Linked DNA regions of Homo sapiens. The protein of the gene in region 6 purifies or fractionates together with the protein of the main gene of each other region. This does not show direct contact. Each region holds a gene or a part of one and is shown on either strand. Other genes may lie near its edges.

The links.
Region 1: the proteins of NUP153 (region 6) and RCC1 purify together in Homo sapiens (affinity purification with mass spectrometry; one large-scale study listed by BioGRID and IntAct). This does not show direct contact.
Region 2: the proteins of NUP153 (region 6) and NUP133 purify together in Homo sapiens (co-immunoprecipitation; 3 studies listed by BioGRID and IntAct, with this or other methods). This does not show direct contact.
Region 3: the proteins of NUP153 (region 6) and YTHDF1 fractionate together in Homo sapiens (co-fractionation; one large-scale study listed by BioGRID). This does not show direct contact.
Region 4: the proteins of NUP153 (region 6) and SMPD4 purify together in Homo sapiens (affinity purification with mass spectrometry; one large-scale study listed by BioGRID and IntAct). This does not show direct contact.
Region 5: the proteins of NUP153 (region 6) and KPNA4 purify together in Homo sapiens (affinity purification with mass spectrometry; 2 studies listed by BioGRID and IntAct, with this or other methods). This does not show direct contact.
Region 7: the proteins of NUP153 (region 6) and KIFC1 purify together in Homo sapiens (affinity purification with mass spectrometry; 2 studies listed by BioGRID and IntAct, with this or other methods). This does not show direct contact.

The regions. Positions count from the first base shown.
Region 1 is NC_000001.11:28,530,043-28,533,542, reverse strand, and holds part of RCC1 (regulator of chromosome condensation), read right to left. Parts: intron 3,021-3,500; coding exon of another isoform or gene 2,928-3,020; intron 1,741-2,927; coding exon 1,553-1,740; intron 1,373-1,552; coding exon 1,193-1,372; intron 1-1,192. UniProt on the Homo sapiens protein: Guanine-nucleotide releasing factor that promotes the exchange of Ran-bound GDP by GTP, and thereby plays an important role in RAN-mediated functions in nuclear import and mitosis.
Region 2 is NC_000001.11:229,466,842-229,470,341, forward strand, and holds part of NUP133 (nuclear pore complex protein Nup133), read right to left. Parts: intron 1-3,500. UniProt on the Homo sapiens protein: Involved in poly(A)+ RNA transport. Involved in nephrogenesis.
Region 3 is NC_000020.11:63,194,929-63,199,131, forward strand, and holds the end of YTHDF1 (YTH domain-containing family protein 1), read right to left. Parts: intron 1,807-4,203; coding exon 1,780-1,806; 3' UTR 501-1,779; downstream 1-500.
Region 4 is NC_000002.12:130,175,103-130,178,602, forward strand, and holds part of SMPD4 (sphingomyelin phosphodiesterase 4), read right to left. Parts: intron 1,536-3,500; coding exon of another isoform or gene 1,491-1,535; coding exon 1,452-1,490; intron 1-1,451. UniProt on the Homo sapiens protein: Catalyzes the hydrolysis of membrane sphingomyelin to form phosphorylcholine and ceramide. It has a relevant role in the homeostasis of membrane sphingolipids, thereby influencing membrane integrity, and endoplasmic reticulum organization and function.
Region 5 is NC_000003.12:160,524,072-160,527,571, reverse strand, and holds part of KPNA4 (importin subunit alpha-3), read left to right. Parts: intron 1-1,464; coding exon 1,465-1,634; intron 1,635-1,727; coding exon 1,728-1,772; intron 1,773-3,500. UniProt on the Homo sapiens protein: Functions in nuclear protein import as an adapter protein for nuclear receptor KPNB1. Binds specifically and directly to substrates containing either a simple or bipartite NLS motif.
Region 6 is NC_000006.12:17,696,926-17,700,425, forward strand, and holds part of NUP153 (nuclear pore complex protein Nup153), read right to left. Parts: intron 1-3,500. UniProt on the Homo sapiens protein: Component of the nuclear pore complex (NPC), a complex required for the trafficking across the nuclear envelope. Functions as a scaffolding element in the nuclear phase of the NPC essential for normal nucleocytoplasmic transport of proteins and mRNAs.
Region 7 is NC_000006.12:33,394,823-33,398,322, forward strand, and holds part of KIFC1 (kinesin-like protein KIFC1), read left to right. Parts: intron 1-3,206; coding exon 3,207-3,344; intron 3,345-3,465; coding exon 3,466-3,500. UniProt on the Homo sapiens protein: Minus end-directed microtubule-dependent motor required for bipolar spindle formation. May contribute to movement of early endocytic vesicles. Regulates cilium formation and structure.

The DNA.
Region 1 (3,500 bases), on a different chromosome or scaffold from region 6:
CCTGCTTCGGCCTCCCAAAGTGCTGGGATTACAAGCATGAGCTACTGCGCCCGGACTTCTTTTTTTTTTTTTGAGATGGAGTCTCGCTCTGTCCCCTAGGCTGGAGTGCAGTGGCGCGATCTTGGCTCACTGCAAGCTCCGCCTCCCGGGTTCAAGCCATTCTCCTGCCTCAGCCTCCCGAGTAGCTGGGACTACAGGCACCCGCCACCACGCTTGGCTAATTTTTTGTATTTTTAGTAGAGACGGGGTTTCACCATGTTAGCCAGTATGGTCTCGATCTCCTGACGTCGTGATCTGCCCATCTTGGCATCCCAAAGTGCTGGGATTACAGGCATGAGCCACCGCGCCCAGCCCAATTCTGATTACTTTCATGTGTTTGAAATTCTCCATGAAAATTTCAAAATAGATGTGATAAGGAAACACCCATCAGGCCGGGTGTGGTGGCCCACGCCTGTAATCCTAGCACTTTGGGAGGCTGAGGCGGGTGGATCACCTGGGGTCGGGAGTTCGAGACCAGCCTGACCAACAGGGGAAACCCCGTCTCTACTAAAAATACAAAATTAGCCAGGCGTGGTGGCGCATGCCTGTAATCCCAGCTACTTGGGAGGCTGAGGCAGGAGAATCACTTAAACTTGGGAGGCAGAGGTTGCAGTGAGCCAAGATTGCGCTATTGCACTCCAGCCTGGGCAACAAGAGTGAAACTCCATCTCAAAACAATACAAAAACAACAACAACAACAACAACAAAAACCCACAATCTGTTTTTTCAACTACACTCCTCTGTACCTTGGAAACTCTGAGATGCGACAATCCCTGCCTCCACACCTCCTTGCCCCATCCAAGCCTCTGGGAAGTGTGGAAGAGGCAGTGCTGGCAAGGTGAGGGGGAGACAGAAGTCAGGGAGATGGGTGAAGACAGCAGGCCTCCTGGATCAGCCTCAACCCAGGGACATCCTTGACCCACTCACTTCCCAGGACAGACACTTGATGACATCGGATTCAAGGAAGCAGCCAGTGGCGTGGACAGGCCCACATGAGGAAGCTAGAGTCCTGGGTCTGGGCCTCAGCTCTACCTGTGGGCTTTCATCTCCCCACCAGTAAGTACCATGGGGGCATGGAAGTGGATTATCTTTGGGGCCCCGCCAATTAATTCTGTCTTTCAGGGACCATGCAGACTTTCAGACCCAGCCTTACCCGGAAGGAGCCCCAGAGGAAGACACGGCCATCATCGGTGAGGGCTGCTGTGTGACTGTCTCCTGCTGACACCTGTACCACCTTCTCTTGCAGCTCCACTTTCCCAGGGACCATCTCCGAGCCCTCCACTGATGTGTCCCTTCCCAGGGCACCCTCATCATTGCAGCCGAAGGAATAGACCTGTGCCCAGGATGCCCTCATTAATGCAACGTCTGGCCTCGCAGTCCATTCTCATGTAGGCCACTCCCCACTTGACTAGCCAGCTCCATTTCCACAGTGAACATGCGTGGTTCAAAAGCCCTGCCCCAAGCCACCCAACCCCAGGCCTTGTCCAACCCTGTGCCAGTCCCCAACACCTACCTGGCCACTTTTGCTTAGACACACGGTGTGCATGCCCCCAGCCTCAGCCTGCACAACATCCTCCGGAATGGATACCAGGGCCGGCTTCTTCCTCTCCATCACATTCTCACCCAGCCCCAGCTGGCCCACGTCGCCCTGGCCTAGTGTCAGCACCAAGCCGGGTTCTGTGCTGTGGGACCTGTGTGAGACTGAAGGGTGAAGAAGATAGACCCTGAGTGTAGAGGATGACGACAGCGAGGAGAGGTCACAGGCTCTGGGATCAGACAAACCTGTGCAGAAGCCCCTGCTCTGCCACAGACTGTTAGTATGAACTTTCTAAGTTTTGTCATCTGTGAAATGGGGACAACAAAAGTACCTCTCTCACAGGATTTTTGTGGAGATTAAGAACTGAGCACATTATTCACGTGAAAGGGGAGAAAGGGAAACAAGGAGACACTGGATACTGTGAAATGAATCTTGGTGGAGAGGGCAAGAAGGGCTGGGTGCGGTGGCTCACACCTGTAATCCTAGCACTGTGGGAGGCCAAGGCGGGCGGATCACTTGAGGTCAGGAGTTAAGAGACCAGCCTTGCCAACAGTAGCCTGTAATCTCAGCTACTCAGGAGGCTGAGGCAGGAGAATCACTTGAACCTGGGAGGCGGAGGTGGCAGTGAGCCAAGATCGTGCCACTGCCGCCTCCAGTCTGGGCGACAGAGTGATACTTGATCTCAAAAAAAAAAAAAAAAAGAAAAAGAAAAGAAAGCTAATTATTGTTATTGTTATTTTGAGACGGAGTCTCCCTTTGTCGCCAGTCTGGAGTGCAGTGGTGGATCTTGGCTAATTGCAACCTCTGCCTCCCGGGTTCAAGCGATTCCTCTGCCTCAGCCTCCTGAGTAGCTGGGACTACAGGCGCGCGCCACCGCGCAAGGCTAATTTTTTGTATTTTAGTAGAGACGGGGTTTCACCGTGTTAGCCAGGATGGTCTCGATCTTCTGACAGGCGTGAGCCACCTTGCCCCGCAGAAAGCTAATTATAATAGCAGAATCTGCACCGAAAGCAAGGGAGACTACGTGGGTCAGAGAACAATCCCCAGTCTCCATCCAAGCCCTCCTCCATGCCCAAGCCGTCCGCCAGTGAATAAGTTCAGCTCCCGGGCAAATCCACTGCAGAAACGGACTCTTCCCTCCACCATCCAGTGGAGAGGCAGGAGGGGCGGGAGGAAGAGCGGACAGCGGCATTTGCGGGAGGTGCGCGCCCGGGGCTCTCTGTGGGCCAAAGGCGGCCCCCCAACCCGCAGCCCCGGGCAGCCAATGGCGCCCAGCCCCTCCCCCGAGGATGTGGCCACCGCTGAGGAGCCCGCGCTGGCAGCACAGAGGGCGCCCCGGGCGCGGAGCCACCTGGTCGGGTTTTCTGGTCAGGAGGGCTCGGCCCGCAGGCACCTTGGCAGGAGCGGGCGCCAGGAACGCGGCGGGAGGCAGCGGCCCTCGTGTCTGCAAAAGACAGACACTGTCTGAGCGTGGGTCCACACTTCCCCTCCCAGTTTGGTGCTGGCTTTTCTCTCCTCCCTGTCCCCCTCCGGGGTCCCAGGACAGAGGAAACCACAGCCACCTCCCTCAAATGCTGCCAGGCCATTATCTCATCTCATCCTCACACAGCCCAGAGAGGGTGACGCTGCTCTGGCTGCCGCCATTTTAAGAAGTTGATAATCCAAACTGCGGGATTAAGTGACTTGCCCAGCAGCTAGAAAGTGGCAGAGCAAGGACTTGAACCCATGTCGGAAAGTCAGTGGTCCTAACCATAATGCATCACTGCCTGGGGTGAAGCCCTAGGGTCTAGTTTTTTTTTTTTTTTTTTTGTGCCAGTGCTGCCTGAGTGCTTTGAGAGGAGTTTCTGCCCACTTTGTGATTCCCAGAGGGTAGGATTCAATGAGCTACAGGAAACCTTCCAGCTGGGTGGGGTCTCTGCACATC
Region 2 (3,500 bases), on a different chromosome or scaffold from region 6:
CATATCCTCAGACCTATAGATGGAGGAAAATTTATTGGCAGTTGATGGTAAAAATAAATTCAAAAATCAAGAAAAGTCACATCTCCTAACTTTTAAAAGTCAGAGTGCCCAAATAAGTCTTATAAACAGGCAAATTCTGGATTGTTACTGAGATTTTTAAGCGATGATATTTTTTATTATAGCTACTCTGCTCAGTGCATCTTTAAATAGCACTAGGTTACAGATGACATCACTTTACAATGTAATACCCCAAACTAATGAACTAATAGACTAAAATAATGACCTCAAAAAGTGAACTTGCTAATTTCTTTCTTTGAGGAATTCCCCTTCTTCAGACATAACAGAAACATTTGTAGAACAGAAGTAAGCAACATAAGAGAATGAACTAAATACATAACTTCTAACTCTTCCTTTGTCATTAATTAATACATGGAGATAACAGTGCAAAAATACCATCAGGCACTGAAACTCCTGTTTCAAGTTCAAGTCTGCACTTAAGCTTTCCCCCCATTATTTAGAGTTTGCATAGCAATGGACACTCAGAGATAAGAGGAAAGAAAAATCAGATTAGCTGCCCTCAAGGACCTCACAAACTGGCTGAAGGAACAAGTTATATAGGCACAGATAAAACATGACCCAAACAAAATCCCTCCCTTTTGCAAACCTTGTTCTTCCTTTTGCATTTCTGATGTTAGCCAAAGGCATCCTAACAGCCCAGGCAAGAAATCTTTAGCACATTTAATTTATAAGCTTAAGTGTAAGAATATTTTACATTGTTAACATGAAAAACACAATGAAAGCCTATATAATGGCCGGGTGCGGTGGCTCATGCCTGCAATCCCAGCACTTTGGAGGTGGGTGGATCACAAGGTCAAGAGATCAAGACCATCCTGGAAAACATGGTGAAACCCTGTCTCCACTAAAAATACAAAAATTAGCTGGGCGTCGTGGCGTGCACCTGGAGTCCCGGCTACTTGGGAGGCTGAGGCAGGAGAATTGCTTGAACCAAGGAGGCCGAGGCTGCGGTGAGCAGAGATTGTGTCACTGCACTCCAGCCTGGCGACAGAGCAAGACTCAGTCTCAAAAAAAAAAAAAAAGGAAAGCATATATAATATAAAAGACAGAAAATAACATAAAAGCACATAAAATGCCAAAACACTTGTTAAATTCTCTTATCATGTATATATTCAGTGATTTCAAATATTGCTCATATGCCGTGTCAACATAGTCTGTTCCTTAAGCAGTGAGCTCTGCTTTTCCAGAGCCCTGGGAGGTACAAGGCCTTCCCAAACTGGAGACAGAGTCAAAGTGGAGAGCGCACCCTCAGGCAGCTCTGTATTGTTTTACTTTCTATCAGGGCTGCCAAGTCAAAATATCGTTCTATATGGCCCACCAATCAGAGATTGATTTTGGTTAACCAGCTCGTCCCAAAACACAAATACTCCTTAGACAGGTAACTTGTCACCCCCAAGTGGAAGGACAGGTAAAAAGAAAGAAAAACTACTATATGCATATAGCTATTGTATTCTCTTTTCATGATCATTATGACACGGGAGAAAACCTTTATAACTACACCCCAGAGAAGCTAAAGACCAACGAACATCATGAGAAATGAAGATAAATAGTGACAGGAACAGTCCTAAACATTACCATTTTTCATATGGAACATTCTTTTGAGGAGCCAATCACATTTTTAGTTTTGCTGTATCATATTCCTAAAATATTATTCTATATGTATCCAACTGATAATTTCCAGACCCTTCTCCAATAATTCAGCTAACTGAAACATGTACATACACTAAATTGACACTTATACTTTGCCCTTTGATCCAAATGCAGAATAATGAACCAGGCTCTTGCTCAGTTCTTACAAGTAGTCTGTAATTAATTTTAAAAAATTGTCTTATCATATAAAATTATATATGAATAAAGACCAAAAAGGACACAAAAATGACAACAACTTGATTTGTTAGATCATGAAACTTGAGGTGATTTGTTTTTCTTTCAGATTTCTGGCATACTGTCTAGATTAAAAACAAAACATAACAAAGTGCTTTTCCTTCCATTCCCCAGGAACTAACCCAAATGCATAAAAGCAAAGAATTCACACTAAACACATTTATGGAATCAACAGGAAGACTGAATTTAGGTTATAGTACATCAAACTTAGGTTACAGTACATCAAACATTAAGAAAAAGAGACTTGTCGGCACAGTGTGCTACATGTTAGAATACAGCTAGGCTATAGGAGGAAGGAAGCAAAATTTGAGACACCAAATAGAGTTTGAAGTTCCTCAAATGCATAAGGAATTCCAAATTTCACAGAGCTCAGGGAAGAGCTGGCCCTGTTTCTAAAACCAGATAGTTCTGCAGTCTCAGTTAAGACAACAGGTCTAAGTTCTAATGTCACACCTTTAAAGGGAGACAGCGAAGTCTGCCTTGCTGCCTCATCAGGCTGTGAAGCTTCACAAAAGCACGAGGACTGCGTCACTATTTCCACAATGTCCAGCTGCCACTGGCTGCCCAGCATCTTAACCATTTCTGTCTTTGAAGTTTGTAGCAGACTTTACTTTTTCTCTGAAAATAAATCTGATTCTACAAGCAAGGTGTAGCAACAGGATCCTAGGAGGTAGCTGAGGAGTTCAGTGAAGGTACTGTTTGCAAAGGTGTGGGCAAGATTAAGGGGTCCAAAAAGGGATGGGGCAGCACCCTAGGATGAGGCATTATCAACCTCAGGCCTGAAGAGGCACAAGGAGGGGGCAGCTACTGGAAACACAGAGAAAGCAGTTGGACAGGAGGCACAGTCCCTGACAGAGGGGCACAGCCAATGTAAAGTGCGCACAGGCAAGGAAGAAAGCTGGCAGAATAACTACTCCAACTTCTGGCCTTATGGCAGGGCCTCACATTCATCTGACCTGGCAGAAGCCGGAGGGCAAGGGAGCCCATTCAGGAAGGCCACCTTGCTGTGGCAGAGTCAAGAGTAGATCTGCCTGGCCAACAAGGGTGAAACCAGGTCTCTACTAAAAATACAAAAATTAGCTGGGCATGGTGGCACATGCCTGTAGTCCCAGCTACTTGGGAGGCTGAGGCAGGAGAATTGCTTGAAGCCAGGAGGCAGAGGTTGCAGTGAGCCGACATTGCACTGTTGCACTCCAGCCTGGCAACAGAGCAAGACTTAGTGCCCCCTGCCCCCAGAAAAAAGAGTAGATCGAGAGAGACAAAGGAGAAGATCAGGATGGATGCAGTAGCTCACGCCTGTAATCCCAGCACTTTGGGAGGCTGAGGCGAGTGGATCACCTGAGGTCAGGAGTTCGACATCAAACCCCATCTCTACTAAAAATATGAAAATTAGCCGGGGTGGTGGCTAGCACCTGTAATCCCAGCTACTCGGGAGGCTGAGGTAGGAGAATCACTGGAACCCGGGCAACAGAGTGAGACTCCATCTCAAAAAAAAAAAAAAAGAAGATCAGCATGCAAAGCAAATAGGTACTTGGAGACAG
Region 3 (4,203 bases), on a different chromosome or scaffold from region 6:
CCTAGTACTTTGGGAGGCCAAGGCGGGCGGATTGCCTGAGCTCAGGATTTTCTGGGCTGAGGCTAATATTGCATAACTTTATCACATACTTGTCAACTTCTGCAGATGTACACAATGTGCATTTCACTGCTTATAAATTTTACCTCAAAAGGAAAACAAACTAAACAGGTATTAAACTCTTATTGCATAAATAATAAGAGGCATTGGAGGATGAATGGAGAGAGACGGTGAGGAGCCAAGTCCAGAAAGGGGGTAGCGGTGCCCAGGTGCTGCACGCACCGCTGCGTCTGCACATTCATGTGATGAGGGGTGGGTGACGGTGCCATGTAGTTTATAGTCTTAAGGAAATTAACAGCTCCCTCTTCCAAAGCGAGGGAACGAGAATCCCACACCTTGAGAAACACAGGGCTTTCTACGGTGACTCCCCGAATGGCTCTGCAGCTTAAAAAGCTCCAACACATAAACTCATCAAGTAGGGTGAAGAATGAGGTGACACCAAGTTTGCTAAATAGTATTGTTTATTAAGGCTTGTATTCTCCTAGAGGAAAAACCCAATGTCGTCCAGGACTCCATTCAGGCAGTAACAGTTCAGAGGAAGTGACACGCTCTAAATACAAGTCTAATGATACAGCTGAAACGTTAACTCAGAGGGTCTTTTGGAGCAAGTAGTTTTCAGAAAGCGTCTGCTCTCTAGGACGGTAAGGATCCTCTACAAGGGCACGTGCAGATCCAGGCGCTGGAGCGTCAGGCATGGGCACCATTTTCATGCTTCAACTCAAACTCCAGGTGGTAGTGAGCTCAACGGTCCCTCATTCCACAAAACATGACAGCAAATTCATCTTCTAAAAAAAGTTTTGTTTTGTTTTTACCCATTCAACAGGAAAAAAAATTAGACACACACGATGAAATTTACAACCAGCAGCATCATCCATCACACTGTCTGTACTACCAGATCCTACACTTAAAGCTCAGCATTATTGGTATAAAAACTTAAGACGGCATTAGAATTCTTAAGAAAAGGTGTAAAATTTAAAAAGATGTGCAAACAACAAAGAATGCCCGACCCTGAACCAGACCTAAAGCACCTTCCAGTTCCTCCACACATCATGCCCCAACACCATCCAGCCCAATCGGACACCAGGACAGTGAGGGACGGGTGGCTGTTCAGTGGGCAACAGATCTGGAAGGAAAGATTTTCAAAAAAAAAAAAAAAGTGTCTGCCAAATTTGAAAAATTAAAAGTTATCTGTCTAGCAGAAAAATCAAATGGGTAAATTAGCACTTTAGACCGATAACAGATAATAAAATGACAAATCAGAATGAACAAAAAATCATTAACCTTTTGATTTCAGTATTTTCAAGAGATTTTATCAGAATACTCTAAATGACAAAATGACTCATGGTTTCTTATGTTTGCTAAAAAGCAATAAAGGGATGAGAAATATGAAGTCTCACAGAATATCAAATGACTGAATTTAAGAACACAATTTCTGCCAAAATAGATGCTTTGTTTTTAAGGATACTTACATTTCACATTAGATCAGTCTGATTGATAAGCTGACAAAAAAAATACTCCTTTATTAGTGACTTCTACAGGATTATAATACATAGAAAAAGTACAAATAAATGCAGATCCATCTGGGCAAAAATCAACGACAAGAAAGGCAAAGATGCAACACTCAACCCCCGCACGGGACGACACACTGGAGCTGACCAAGCACACGTGTTTTAAACTGTTTTCAAAGTCAAACGTTAGAACATGTAAGAAACTGGTTCGCCCTCATTGTTTGTTTCGACTCTGCCGTTCCTGTAAAAAGAAAAAACAAAAGTTGAACGCAGAGTAACCACACCAATGAATCCCTCCCAAAAGTGAGATCCGAGGCTGCCCCTTAGCAGCACCTGCAAATCTGGAGGCGGGACCCTGAATGGTACCCAAGCCACACCAGCACACAACTCTGAGCTGCACTGGGGCCTGCTCTGTGGGGGACTGGCCACACTGGGCATGGCATTCTCCCCACCCCCTCTACCAGGAGAAAAGCATCAACCACAACGGTCACATGGGCCACCTGTCTGCTGGGAAGCCTCACTTCCCACAGCTGTCTTTCCCTCATGTGCCACTATCATTCCACATGGAAAGACACTTAGCAATGTGAAATTCTCTGCACTCAGAGGGAGGAGCTGGCACGCACCAGGCTCTCAAGGAGGCCAGGGAGACAGAAGCTGTTCTTCTGTATTTTATCTCATTTAAACTTCTCAGTGGCACAAAGGACACCAAAATCCTTCCAACTGGCTAACAAGGTGCTGTGTCATGTGGCTAATGAAGGGCAGGAGGACCGGTGTGGGCCTGTCCAGTTCAGGCCCTTCCCACTCCCCAGCTCACTCCCACGCCAAGGGGAAGAGCATGCCCCTCCCCACTCCCCCACGGCTAGACTGGCTCAAGGCAAAGCTCCTCTGACCAGGTTTGCTGCCCACTCCCGTAAGAGAATCATCTTTTCCAGAGTGTATGTGACACACAAGCTTGAGACTTACACCCGAATCTTTTCCCACACTGGCCTCCCTGAGTAGCAGGGTCTAGAAGCCCCTTCAGTCTCCTTACAAGGCAGCATACAAAGATGAAAATGTGCGATCTAAGGAGCACACGCTGCACCACTCTGCTAGAGAGGTGTCCCAGGCCGAGTGTGGTGGCGCACCCTGTAATCCCAGCTATTCGGGAGGCTGAGGCGAGAGGATCGCTTGAGCCCATGAGTTTTCGGCTGCAGTGAGCTATTATCTGCCCTGCACTCCAGCCTGGGCAACAGAGAGAGACCCTATCTCGAAATAAAAACAAAACAAAAAGATGCATCCCAGGCACATCCACCCTCATCTGGCCATCTATCAAGATGCAAACTAATAAAGAAAACCAGCGGGCAGGACACCCAAACATTTAACCTGAAACCTCCTCTTTTGCTAAAAATGGACTGAATGTGTCTTCCGGTTAATAATAAACTTTGCTGGGCACTGGAATAAACACCAGCCTCCTCAACTGTGGCTGCTCTCAGAAGCAGATGTGGTGTTCCCTGTCCCGAGAAGGCTCCAGAGTATTTGGATTAAGGACCTGGATAGGCAGGTCCTACTCTTAAGAATTAACATTTCCTCCCTACCCTCAAATGTAAAACTGGAAAAATTAAGAACTCTGTATTTTACATTCTCTTAAACATTCTCCGTTAAAAAAAATCTCTTCCCAGGCTGGGTGTGGTGGCTCATGCCTGTAATCCTAGCACTTTGGGAGGCCAAGGTGGGTGGATTGCCTGAGCTCAGGAATTTGAGACCAGCTTGGTCAACATGGTAAAACCCCACCTCTACTAAAAATACAAAAAAAAAAAAAAAATTTGGCAGGGCATGGTGACCGGCGCCTGTAATCCCAGCCACTCTGAAGGCTGAGGCACAAGAATTACTTGAACCTAGGACGCAGAGGTTGCAGTGAGCTGAGATTGTGCCACTTCACTCCAGCCTGGGGGAGACAGCGAAACTCTCAATCAATCAATCTCTTAACAAAAGAGGTACTGCTGTTCCTAAAAAGCAAATACCAATCTCTTGAGTTCAAATAGCTGATGTTAAAGCCACTCACAGGTAAACTCCCCAGATCCCCATCTCCCTTCAGCCCTTATAAACAGCTACAAAGTTTACTATGTGCTCTTTAAAAAATACTATTCCTCATAAAATTTCTCAAAAAAAAAAAAAATGACGAAGCACAGCTCGTTCTTTTGAGGAATGCTCAACAAGCATCCAGGAAATGCTTATGGCCTAAGATTCTCTATGCTCTTTCTTAATTTCCAAAGTCAAAGAGCCACTCTGCTGAGCCGGCCTGGAGGTCGAAGTGGGGTCAGGTCAGGGGCACCTGCCGCCAGGGCAAGGACAGTCAGTCTGAGGAACTAAGCAATGCTCACAGTGTGGGACGCTCACCACTTTCACTGTTTTAAGCTAAGAAGTGGCCGTTTCTAGGTTTTTTTAAAACCAAAAAATGTATCAACCCAGGACTTGGTCTGACTCTGCTGCCATAAAAGCTACTGCCATCCTAAGAAATCAGTATGTTTCTAAATTTATAGCTGGACAGCAATCTTGCAAAATGCTAACTCTACTTCACTTTCTCAACACTCAACTTGTTTATGACCTTTACAGCAATGGGGCCAAACTCTAAATGATAAAGAAAAGGTGGGTCTGTTCT
Region 4 (3,500 bases), on a different chromosome or scaffold from region 6:
AGTCAGACCCATAACCTCTGGCCTGGTTCCCCAGCCCCTCATGTGTGTCAGTGGCCCAAAGAGTACTACTAGGAGAGGCCGTAGTTCTATGCTCTCTGGACCAGGAACTATCAGCCTTGTTTCCCAGTACCCCCTCAGAGTGCTGCACATGATCAGAACAGGATTGACTTCCACCAATCCATAAGTAGGGGTTGGTCCCAGAGTCAGCCCCACAGCCAGAAGAGGATCTTGACTGTGTAAGGGCACCCCTCACAAACCACAGAGTATAACTGAGTTTGTACGCATCAACTGGAAATTTCCAGCCTGATGGACCACCGTGATTACACCATTGTGATCATCAGTAAGAACGCCCAACAACATCACGGCTATGGCAGAAGCTCTCTTAAATGAGCTGTCCTTTATTCGGTAGACACTGAACCACTAAACCAATGATCTTAAAACACAGGGCAGACAAAAATTATAGATGGCTTCAGCCAAGTAGACACTAATCATGAAGGCAATGGAGAGGCCAGAAAAGACTCAGGACAAGGACTAATGAAATCTACCTAGTCGTGGGATGTGAGGAAAGCACCCTGACTACAAGGAGAAAAAGGGCATCTGTGCGAATGGATTAAGATCAGGAGAAACGGCTAGAATTTCAACCTAGAGAGCTTTGCCAAAGGATATCTAAGGCCTTGTCTACCTCCAAACAAGGGTGGATTTCACAGTGATTGAGACAGAGATGGAGACCTGAGCTATCTGGCCATGGGCCAGACCTGTTGACTCTAGTGGGGTGCACTGAGGAAGAATGTCCTTCCACATAAATGTTTACAAAAACACCTCCTAAGAACTAAAATTAGGAACTTTCATCACCAATACTTGCCTCATATCTAACTTCTCACTTCTCAGTATCATTTTTTTTTCCTTTTTGAGTCTTTACTATGTTGCCCAGGCTGGTCTCAAACTCTTGGGCTCAAGTAATCCTCCTGCCTCAGTCTCCTCAGTAGCTGGAACTCCAGGCATGAGCCACTGCACCCAGTTCTCAGCATCATGTTTAATACTTAAAGTGCAACCTAGCAGGCCCCCGCACAACAGTGTCTCCATTTTTCACTGATGACAGTTATGACTGATTATTAGAATACTTCATATCTATTTAAGAATTTACAAGTCATGAACATTCTGATATACATCCTTCTCACTTGCTCTTCCTCCTCCTCACACCCTTGGGAAGTAGAGAAAATAGAATTTGAATGAACTTGTGTGAGAAAACCCAGAGCCCAGAAGTTGAGTAACCCCAAGGTCCTGTAGTAATAAGGAGGCACAGTCAAGTTAAGGAGTCTGCCATTGTTTCCATCACATGCCCCTAAAAAACAACCACTACAGAGTTCTTCAAGTCAATGGGAAGAACACTCAAGTCCCACATCTACAGAACTATGGCCACACTGACACTCATGCAAGCAGTTGATATTTACCAGTAGAAAGCTGGGCTGCTGCAGGTGAGGGAACGCCATAGCAGCCTCCAGTGGAGAGTTGAAAATGGCCTTCTTAGCAAACCACTGTGGAAAAACAAAGACAAAATCTCAACATCTGTAACACAGCAGAATCTTTTTATATTATTTTTTTAGAGACAGGGTCTTGTTCTGTTGCCCAGGCTGGCATGCAGCAGCACGATCATAGCTCACTGCAACCTCAAACTCCTGGGTTCAAGCAATCCTCCCACGTCAGTCTCCTGAGTACAGGCACGTGCCACTATGCCTGGCTAATTTTCTTCTTTTTTGAGACAGGGTCTCGCTATGTTGCCCAGGCTAGTTTGTCAGGCTGTGATGCCCAGGATCCTGGCCTCCACTGATCCTCCTGCCTTGGCCTCCTAAGTGTTGGGGTTACAGGTGTGAGCCACTGCACCTGGCCCTAACAAAATATTACATAGTTTCACAATGCCCAGGAGAATATCACACATTACATTACCAATTCGCAACACACATTACATTGCCAATTCTCATGTCTTACTTATTGATTAGAGACAGGCTCTTGCTTGCTCACTCAGGCTGCAGTACAGTGGTGCGATCATAGCTCATTGCAACCTCAAACTCCTGAGCTCAAGTGATCCTCCTGCGTCAGCCTCCCAACTAGCGGGAACTACAGGCAAACATCAACAAGCCCAGCTAATTTTTGTACTTTTTGTAAAGATGGGGGTTTCATCATGTTGCTTAGACTGCTCTTGAACTCCCAGACTCAAGCGAACTATCCGCCTCAGCCTCCCAAAGTGCTGGGATTACAGGTGTGAGCCAACACGCCTGGCCAGCAATTCCCATCTTTTATAGAAATGCTGTTCTCAGCCGGGCATGGTGGCTCCCACCTGTAATCCTAGTACTTTGGGAGGCTGAGGCAGGAGGATCACCTGAGGTCAGGAGTTCAAGACCAGCCTGGCTAACATGGTGAAAACCCGTCTCTACCAAAATACAAAAATTAGCCGGGCATGATGGTGGGTGCCTATAATCCCAGCTACTCAGGAGGCTGAGACCCGAGAATCACTTGAACCCAGGAGAGGTGGTTGCAGTGAGCTGAGTCACACCACTGCACTCCAGCCTAGAAGGCTGAGCAAGACTCCATCTCAAAAAAAAAAAAAAGAAAAAAAGAAATACTGTTCTCCTGCAGCCCATAGTGGCCAGCTTCAGAGCCAAGTTTGTAGTACTGAATCCTCGGTAATGCTTGTACAGCATTTGTTATATACCAGGACTCGCTCTAAATGCTCTCTATATATCTCCTCATTTAATCCTCAGTGGTAGGCAGAATTCTAAAGATAGCAGCCCAAGATTCCCGACCCCTGTTTGTTCAATCAAATACTCATCTAGGTACTGCTATGACGGCATTTTGCACATCCAATTAGAGTCCTAAGTTAGTGGACCTTAAGTTACAGAGTAGTCCCCAGCTGACAGCCAGCAAGGAAACAAAGACCTTAGTTCTACAACTCCAAGGAACTGGATTCTGCCAGCAACCTAAATAAACCTGGAAGCAGCTTCTTCCCTAGAGTCTCCAGATAAGAGCAAAGCTACCAACACCTTGATTTTAATCTTGTAATGCCTGGACTTCTGCATACATAACTATGAGATAATAAATGGATGCCGGTTTAAGCTGCTAAGTTTGTCATACAAGAATAGAAAAACCAACCTCACAACAACCCGATGGGTACAGATGTACTATGACTGCAGGTCAGTACAGATGATGAAGGAGAGGCAGAAATGGGATAATTCACTTACCCCCACCCAGCTAGTAAGTGGCAGAACCAAGATTCCAATACAAACACCACCTCACAAAACTGAGACAGGGGCAAATCCCCTCCATATTACCTGTGCACTATGCAATGAACGGAGGGGAAGAGCAAGCTCTGCCAAGGGAGCCTTTGAATAAGCCATGAGAAAACTAGGATCAAAGGCCGGGCACCATGGCTCACACCTGTAATCCCAGCACTTTGGGAGGCCGCGGTGGGCAGATCACTTGAGGCCAGGAGTTTGAGACCAGTC
Region 5 (3,500 bases), on a different chromosome or scaffold from region 6:
TAAACCAATAATTTTTCTCCGTAATGACAGTTCTGAGAAGAGTCTAAAATGAAATTTTTTCTCTCTTGCAGACTTCAGTACATTAGAATTTAGTAATGTATAAAATATAGTAATATTATTTCCTGTCACCATGAATCAACAAGACATAACCATAGCCTTTTGACAGTCTGGTTAAATATTTAACACTGTGATTACTATAACTTTCAGGTTCTCTCTGATAAATAATTGTAAGGAAAATAAAGACAATTCTGATATTTCAAGGATTTGTTTTTTTAACTAGAGCCTAAACTCAAAAATTCAAAGAACTATTCTCCAGTAAAGGATGGAAAAAATCTGAATTGTATTGTGCCCCAGTATAGCTCAGAGACCTAACAGTTATGAGTGGGGGCTGAGGTACTGTTTGTAGGGGTATTGCTAATCTAGTGAAGGAGAATGATTCTAAAGATTATTTTTGCCAAATTCTTTATTCTTGCATGGAAATAATCATTGTTGCTTTGATATGCCATCTCTTTATTGCCCTTATACAGGGCCAACATGAAAGTAAAGAGTGGTTATGAGTTTTTAAGGGAGAATTTCTCTGTAAACCATTCTTGACATTGGGTTTATACTATTAGGAATGCTATTGTTTCTATATCCAGACTCCCTCACTCTTTTGCTTTTATACCAAATGTTAGATTTAGAGCTATTATACAGCATCTTGATCTTTCATTTTTTTATTCCAGTGACATTCCGTAATTAACATGAATATAAAGATGCAAAAAGAACAAACATTTTATCTCCAGATATTATAGTGCAAGGGAAGGTGCTTTCACTTATGGTAACATTTCAACATGGCTTCATATTAGAAACTGCAGTGATGCTTCAGATACAGAAATTAAACTTGGCAGTTCTCTGCAGCAGTGGTTCTCAAACCTTAGCATGCAATCAGGACTACATGGGGTGCTTGTTAAAACACAGAATTCCAAACCCATAGAGTTTCTGCTTCAGGAGGCCTGAGCTAGAGCCCAATAATCACATTGAGAACCACTATTCTAGCACTGGTTCACCCTTTTCTTCTGACATAGTTTTCTAAGTGTATAGAGTAATTTATAGTTCATAACCTTGATGCTCTGATACGGGATCATAAGTACAAATTCAACAAATATTTTCTTGATACATCTTTTTTATCACATGAAAGTTTGTTAAACCAAGAGTATTGTTGAGAGAGAAGTTAAAAGCAGCAGTTTAATTAAGTGAGCAGCAAAATGCTGAAGATGGGAATAATGTGCAAAAGAATACCTTATCACTTTATGTTGCCTCTCTTGGCTCAGAGACCTTGAATGTGAGCCTGCTTGTTATTGTCTAAAACTGAACAGTGTATCTGGATAAAATACATGAAGCAGCATATTCCCAGTGCTTTGTGTTTTCTGAAAATGCTTACTGTCAGTATGTTTTATTGAGTAAATTAATCCTTTTTTTCTACAGGTGATGGGCCCCAGTGTAGAGATTATGTCATAAGTCTTGGAGTTGTGAAACCTTTACTTTCCTTCATAAGTCCATCTATTCCTATAACATTCTTAAGAAATGTTACTTGGGTTATGGTCAACTTATGTCGCCACAAAGACCCACCACCACCAATGGAAACCATTCAGGAGGTAAACACTTTTAAAAAAAAATTAAAAGAGATACCATTATATATATATTTTTTATTTGTGTATGTTTTTAAATCTACATATTTCTCTCCTCAGATTCTTCCAGCCCTTTGTGTTTTAATTCATCACACAGATGTAAATGTGAGTAAATGTGTCCTATTATATATTTATGTATGTATGTATGTATTTCTAGGGCTTCCCCTGTGACATAGGGGAGAAATATTATACTAACACATTGTGTCAGCATACTATCAGATTTTCCCATTTCAAGAGTTATTTTATATTAGATTAGTTATTTTATAATATTTTAATATTTACTCTATGTTTATCTATATCACAAAATATAATACCAGTTAAGAAATCAAGCATAACTGTTATTTTGGTGTGGACAATATTGTATGTATGTGTATATATTAGTGTTATAAAAACTGACATTAAAAGTTTTTAAAGTTGCCAGATAGTGGTGATTTCTCTTACTAAGATCATGTCTTTAATTGTTCTTGTGCTTTTTACAGAAGGTCATTTTGACAGTTTGGCCAATGAAAGCACACACAAATAGTGCTATTTTTGTTTTTTGAAAGATGAAAAAGGAAAATGTTTGTGCATGGATTTGTATTCATATACACATACCAAACCATGGACATCAATTGCCCTTTAATTCCATTTTTATTCTATTTCTCAGTTACAGTGACTGGCAGTGGCTTCATTTATCAAGATAACTTGATTATCCAAACAACAGGAAAAAAAAATCAGTGCAGGCAAGATTTTAAACATAGCAAATATATTTTGCTTATTTTTACTAACACAGATGGCAGAGGAAAAAGCAACTCAGGGAGTATGAATGAGGTGGAAAACTGCCCTGAGTGCTTGTAAAAGCCAGACCAGCCTTTGGTGTGTTAGAGAAACCAGGAATATAATGGGTAAGGGAAAACACATGAATGAAATGTTTAGCAACAATCAGGAACTCATGTGGTTCTTTAAAAACAGTTTGGCATGGTGACCAGTGTTGGACAAGCTGCTTCATTTCTTTACAATTTAAAGGCCTATGCCTTTTGGCCAGAATTTAATTTGTATGGAACAAATTAAAATTAGAATTTTACTGTATCAAACAGTGACATAATATATAAAATTCATTAGATGAACATGATCTCTGTGGTAGAGTTTTTGTTTGTTTTTAGCCCCAGATAGTTTAGGATCTTAAAAAATGTGTAAGTAATTTTTGGTTTTGGCTCCTTAATAGCCAAGTTCTTTGATTAAATTGTGAATTTCAATATTTTGCTTTGAAAGATTTACAAGAGGCCAGGTGTGGTGGCTTATGCCTATTGTCCCAGCACTTTAGGAGGCTGAGGCAGGAGGATCACTTGAGTGCAGGAGTTCGAGACCAGCCTGGGCAACATGACGAAACCCTGTCTCTATGAAAAATACCAAAAAATTAGCCAGGCATAGTGATGTGCACCTGTAGTCTCAGCTACTCAGTGGCTGAGGCAGGAGGATCTCCTGAGCTGGGGAGGTCAAGGCTGCAGTGAACTGTGATCATGTCACTGCACTGCAGCCTGAGTGACAGAGCAAGACCCTGTCTCAAAAATAAATAAATAAATAAATAAATAAAACGATTGGCAAGAAAGATTTAACTTCAAAGTTTATACCTCTACTAGAAAACAAGACATCTTGGTTGACTTTATTTAGAGATAGATTGTGTTCTTTCCACCTATTTACTCCAATCTAGATGAGACTGTGACTCCATTTTCTTGCCTTTGATGTATCTTGAAGAATTTCTCAAGCCTGTTTACATTGTTCTTTTTAGTAACATGATTAACAAATAATATTGCTTACTAAATAATGTGTTAGAAGTTTGATTTGAATTATGAT
Region 6 (3,500 bases):
AGCTGGCAGGTGGTGTCCGCCTGTAATCCCAGCTACCCAGGAGGCTGAGGCAGGAGAATCACTTGAACCTGGGAGACGGAGGTTGCAGTGAGCCCAGATCACACCACTGCACTCCAGCCTGGGCTACAGAGCAAGACTCCGTCTCAAAAAAAAAAAAATTAATCTTAAAAAATACTCTGTGGCCCTAAAGCAAAGTCCACACTTCATAATCATAAATAATAAATTTAAGTTCAAGGATTAAAGGAGTGAATTTTAGAATGTGAACTGGCTAAATCCACTGGGTATTCTCTCTCCAAGAAAGAAGGGTTCTTCATTTGGCAAAACATGTCAAAAATGCCACTGAGATTTAGACTAATTAAAAATTCAATCTGGGGATTAGAATTCAATACTACATACATATCAGGAACATTCAACGTATAAGGTATTGTGAATACATTAGCTTTTCAAATTATATTTAACCTGAGTTGAAGGATTAATGAGCTGGGCGCAGTGGCTCATGCCTGTAATCCCAGCACTTTGGGAGGCTGAGGCAGACAGGTCACCTGAGGTCAGGAGTTCAAGACAAGCCTGGCCAACATGGCGAAACCCTGTCTCCATTAAAAAATGCAAAAATTAGCCAGGCGTGGTGGCAGGCACCTGTAATCCCAGCTACTTGAGAGGCTGAGGGAGGGAGAATTGCTTGAACCCAGGAGGCAGAGGTTGCAGTGAGCCGAGATCACATCACTGCACTCCAGCCTGGGCGACTGAGCGAGACTCCATCTCAAAAAAAAGGATTAATGAAAGGCAGCTGGGGTGGGGGCAGGCTACTCTATAACACTAACTCAGAAACAGCTGGGGTGGGGGAAGGCTATTCTATAACACTAACTCAGAAACAGCTGGGGTGGGGGAAGGCTATTCTATAACACTAACTCAGAACTCACTTGTAATTAACGACATTCTTTTCTTATAAACCTTTTCACAGGAATAACCAGAGGCATCTTTTCAGTATGGCCAACTCCTTGTCATTCCTATATATCCTTCCTTCCTTCTATACAAAGCTCTTTTCTTCCTACTAGTTTTCTTGACTTCAGTTCTGTTCAACTCCCTTTTCTTCACATTATCCTTAGCAGTGTTCAGATTATAAAATCTCCTTTCTCAAATAGTTTCACTGGATCTTTAACTATAAATATCAAATGCAGTCCATCATCAGTTTTAAGGTTCTGGAATCTTATTCTCCCAGGGAGCAGGTTTTTAATTCTTCAGCTAGAAAAGTACTTTAAATGGCTAGAGGACTTGGACTGATTGGATAGGGTAAACTTCGCTGCTGAATGGCATAGGCTTATAAAATACAACCAATAATGTCTTAGATTTGGATGTTAAATTCAGATTATTGAAACTAGATTCAGGTCCAAGCACCGTGGCTCACGCCTGTAATCTCAGTGCTTTGGAGGCCAAGGCAGGGGTTCTGCTTCAGTCCAGGAGTTGGAGACCAGCCTGGGGAATATGGCGAAACCCTGTCTCTACCGAAAAAATACAAAAATTAGCTGGGAGCAGCCGGGCGTGGTGGCTCACGCCTGTAACCCCAGCACTTTGGGAGGCCGAGGTGGGCGGATCACAAGGTCAGGAGATTGAGACCATCCCGGCTAACATGGTGAAACCCCATCTCTACTAAGAATACAAAAAATTAGCGGGGCGTGGTGGTGGGCACCTGTAGTCCCAGCTACTTGGGAGGCTGAGGCAGGAGAATGGCGTGAACCCGGGAGGCAGAGCTTGCAGTGAGCCGAGATCGCGCCACTACACTCCAGCTTGGGCGACAGAGCAAGACTCTGTCTCAAAAAAAAAAAAAAAAAAAGAGCTGGGAGCCTGAAGCAGGAGAATCACTTGAATCCCAGAGCGGGGCGGAGGTTGCAGTGAGCCAAGATCGTGCCATTGCACTCCAGCCTGGGCAACAGAGTGACACTGTCTTAAAAAAAAAAAAAGAAAACTCAATAAAAGCTCACAGTAGTTAAACTCACTAAAAGTTACCTACAAGATACTATCACACTTTTTCTCAGGTAACATGTTTGAAAATTGGGAGTAAGAGTTTGTTTCTTAAATCACACTAAGAAAAAGATATGCAAAATCAAGCAAACTGAAATATCTATAGATAGAAAAGGCATCCTATCATCCTGTTTCTGACAGTAAATGGTATGTGTCAGCAAGACTTGAAACCAAACTTCCCAACACAGAAGAATCTTTTAAAAATATATTACAACCATGAAGATAAGCTAAATAGCTACAAATAATTTTTTTTTTTTTTAAATACAAGCTAGCTGGGCGTGGTGGCTCAAGCCTGTAATCCCAACACTTTGGGAATCTGAGGCAGGCAGATCACAAGGTCAGGACTTCAAGACCAGCCTGGCCAACATGGTGAAACCCCGTCCCTACTAAAGATATAAAAACTTAGCCAGGAATAATGGTGCGTGCTACTCCAGAGGCTGAGGCAGGAGAATTGCTTGAACCTGGCAGGCGGAGGTTGCAGTGAGCCGAAATCGCACCATTGCACTTCAGCCTGGGTGACAGGGCGAGACTCGTCTCAAAAAAAAAAAAAAAAGAAAATACAAGATAATTACAATCTTTGCAATACTCTGTGCCTAATGAAAATGGTTTTGGCTGGGCAAGGTGGCTCACGCCTGTAATCCCAGCACTTTGGGAAGCCGAGGAGGGCAGATCACTTGAGGTCAGAAGTTTGAGACCACCACACCAACATGGTGAAACCCCGTGTCTACTAAAAATACAAAAATAGCCAGGCGTGGTGGCACACACCTGTAACCCCAGTTACTCAGGAGGCTGAAGCAGGAGAATCCCTTGAGCCTGGGAGGCAGAGACTGCAGTGAGCCAAGATCACAGCATGGCACTCCAGCCTGGGTGACAGAGCTAGATTCTGTCTCAAAAAAAAAGAAAAGTAAACAGTTTTAATTAGTGACATCAGACTACAATTTTTATTTTACTTCAAACTAAGATATCTGCCTTGTCAGGGACTTCCCAGAAAATGGATACAGCAAGTGGACTTTTTTGTCACTTATTAGAAAAATTAAGTAAATTAATATAATACCACACAAAACCTCTCATCACAAACAAAACACCTACTTTGCATTAAACAATTTAATACATGCAAGTATTGAATTTAGTCACCTAAAGGAAACAAAACTTCTGATAAGAAGCAGGAAAATTCAGAGACAATATGAAGACCCTAAATCAGGAGACTAATTTGAGTAATAATAAAACTGTGGTCTCCCACAAAAAAAAAGATCCTAAATCAAACAGTTCTATTTAATTTCAAATTTCAATTGCATATATATAATAAGGACTCAATTTTTAATAACTCCTTACCTATATACATATGCCAGGTCCTGTTCTAAAATCTTCACTTGTCCCATTTAACCTCCACAACAATTTTCACTTTACAGATGAGTAAATTAACTTGTCCAAGTCCAGGCAGAACAGGGATCCAAACTCAGGCTGACTCCATTACACTACAA
Region 7 (3,500 bases), about 16 Mb from region 6:
GATCGAGGTCTGAGCTGGACATATAAATTTGGAAACTGTCAGCATATCAATGATATTTAAAGGCATGGGAGTGGATAGTGAGTATAGATAGAGAATGCTGTTAAAATCTGGAGAGATGAGGAGGACCTGCCAGTGAGGTAAGAAAGAGTGGTCTCCTGGAAGCTAACTGAAGAAAGCCTATTAAGGAAAAGGGAGTAATCAGTTGTATCAGATGCTGTTTGATGGGTCAAGAAAATGAAGATAAAGAATTGACTTAGCAACATGAAGTTACTTGTGATCTTGAGGATAGCAATTTCGATGGAATGGTGGGAATGAAAGCCTGATTGCAATGGGCTTAGGAGAGAAATTGGCCACGATGAATACACTAGAGGTAATACTTTAGAGTTTTGCTGCGAAAGGCGGCAAGGAAAAAGGATAGTACCTGTTAGGGAAAGCAGAGTTCAGATTCTTTTAGTTTCGAAGAAATAATAGAGTTTGTGGTATGCCAATTGGAGTGATGCCATAGAGTACAAAGCTGATGGTGCAGAGGTGAGAAGGGAGGATTGCTGGAGGAATGTTCCTGAAACTGGGAGGATTTGGCGAGTCCAGGATTTGGTGAGGAGGGATGGGAATGTGATGCATATATGAAAGGGTTGCCTTAGGAGCAGGGCCATCCACCTCTGATCTTGTGGTGAGGTGGATGTAGGCAGGGTTGCATGAATATCTGTTCTTATAGAAGGTTAAGTGCTTATGCTTCTCACTGTGGAAAGTTGGAGGGCATCATTCTAGCTTTATATTAATAGATGGGAAAAATATATATACTGTGGTCTTTGGAGTTGTCCTGAATAAACAAACCTTTAAACACATTTTCTGAACCGGCATAAATTCCAAGGAGGTAGGTCTGTAGCAGATCCACTACGGTAGTGTAGAGAGGAGGAAGGGCACAGGTTATTTTTAAAAATTAGTGTTTGACTTTGGAATACTTAAAGAAAAATTTGGTTTCCATACTATATTTGATTACACTAAATTAAAATAAGCTTTCTTTGTGCACACTTCTGTAGGTGGCAGGAAAAATGCTACCTCTTTTTTTCCCTTTTTATTTTTATAGAAGCCAATGGTATGGATATATCACAGTTTAAGTATTGCCCCACTGATGAACATTCAATTTCATTCCTTCAAAAACTGTAGAGTCCTACCATGTAGCAGACATTGTACTAGGCCCTCTGGTTATATAGTTATGAACAAAACAGATGAATTCTTATGGTGCTCACAGTCTTATGTAGGGGTTATGATAATAAAAACAAAAGAAAACAGTGTATCAGGTTGTTTCATGATTTTTAAAAATAATGATGCTCTGTGAACTTCCTTGAGTAAATCTCACTGTATCACGGGTAGCTCAAACTCACTTTCCCAAAATTGAACTTAGCATCCATGAAACCAATCCTGCTGGGTCCAGTGGCATGTGCTTGTTGTCCTAGGCACTTAAGAGGCTAAGGCAGGAGGAGCACTTGAACTCAAAGTTCAAAGCCAGCTTGGGCAACCCTGTCTCAAAAACAAATAAACAAAAAACAACTCTTCAGGTACTCAGATCTCTGTGTTATTTCTTTTCTTTTTCTTTTTCTTTCTTTTCTTTTCTTTTTTTTTTTTTTTTTTTGAGACAGGATCTCAATATGTCGCCCAGGCTGGAGTGCTGGAGTGCAGTGGCATGATCACGGCTCACTGCAGCCTTGATCTGGGCCCAAGCCATCCTCCCACCTCAGCCTCCCTTGTAGCTGGGACCACAGGCAAATGTCATCTGGTTCGCTAAGGTGGATGTCTGCCTAGCTTAGCCCTCAAGCTTCTAGAATAGCCCCTTTCAACTAGGTTCCATGAGAATTAATTTCTTTTTTTTTTTTTTGAGACCGGAGTCTCGCTCTGTCACCCAGGCTGGAGTGCAGTGGCACAATCTTGGCTCACTGCAAGCTCCGCCTCCCGGGTTCACGCCATTCTCCTGCCTCAGCCTCCCCAGGAGCTGGGACTACAGGCGCCTGCCACCACGCCCGGCTAATTTTTTGTATTTTTTAGTAGAGACGGGATTTCACCGTGTTAGCTAGGATGGTCTTGATCTCCTGACCTTGTGATCTGCCCGCCTCGGCCTCCCAAAGTGCTGGGATTATAGGCATAAGCCACCGCGCCTGGCCAAGTTCTTTTTTTTTTTTTTTTTTTTGAGACGTAGTCTCGCTCTGTCACCCAGGCTGGAGTGCAGTGTTGTGATCTCGGCTCACCGCAACCTCCACCAATCGTTCAAGCGATTCTCCTCCTTGGCCTCCCAAGTAGCTGGATTACAGGCACATGCCACCATGCCTGGGTAATTTTTGTAGAAACAGGGTTTCACCATGTTGGTCAGGCTGGTCTTGAACTCCTGACCTCAAGTAATCTGCCCGCCTCAGCCTCCCAAAATGCTGGAATTACAGGCATAAGCCACCGTGCTCGCCCAGAATTAAGTTCTAATGCCCTTTTTTTTTTTTTTTTTTTGAGACGGAGTCTTACTCTATTGCCCAGGTTGGAGTGCAGTGGCGTGATCTCGGCTCACCGCAACCTCTGCCTCCCAGGTTCAGGCGATTCTCCTGACTCAGCCTCCCGAGTAGCTGGGATTGCAGGCATGTGCCACCACACCCAGCTAATTTTTGTATTTTTAGTAGAGACGGGATTTCACCATGTTGGTCAGGCTAGTCTCAAACTCCTGACCTTGTGATCTGCCCACCTCTGCCTCCCAAAGTGCTGGGATTACAGGCATAAGCCACTGCACCCGGTCCAGGTGAAACATTTCAAACATGGCTCAGTAAATATTGCCTGATTCTCCCAAGCAGTCTTCAACACTCACATATCTTCCACTCTCTCCCTTGTTTATGATTCTCAGCTCCAGCCAAAAGGGCCAGTTGGTTTCTTAGCCATGCTATGTACATATTTGAATTTTTGCCTTCCAGGAAGAGCATCCATTCCTCTCTGCTTGTTTGAGTCCCACCCTTAAAGTTAGTCAAGTCCAGCTTTTCCCCTAGAGGTTATTCCCACTTTTAGGTTATGTCCTCACTTCTGTTCATGCTGTCTGGCACATAATTCAGCTTTTGGCACAAGTGGTGCTCAGTGCTTGGTGGTGGTGTTGACAATTGAGGCTGGGGGCCAAGACAGGAAGTTCTTGGGACATTTGGGCTCCTGGGTATTGTCTTAAGGGTCTCTTTTCCCAACAGAGGTCCCCCCTATTGGAAGTAAAGGGGAACATAGAACTGAAGAGACCTCTGATTAAGGCCCCTTCCCAGCTGCCTCTCTCAGGAAGCAGACTCAAGAGGAGGCCTGACCAGATGGAAGATGGCCTGGAGCCTGAGAAGGTGAGCTGGGCATGGAGAGCTGTGCATGTGTGTGGGGGGTGTGTGTGTGTGAAAGAAAGGAGAGAGAGAGTATAAACCATTAGGGAGGGTGACTATGGACCTTGTCTTTATCTTTCCCCAGAAACGGACAAGAGGCCTGGGTGCAACGACCAAAAT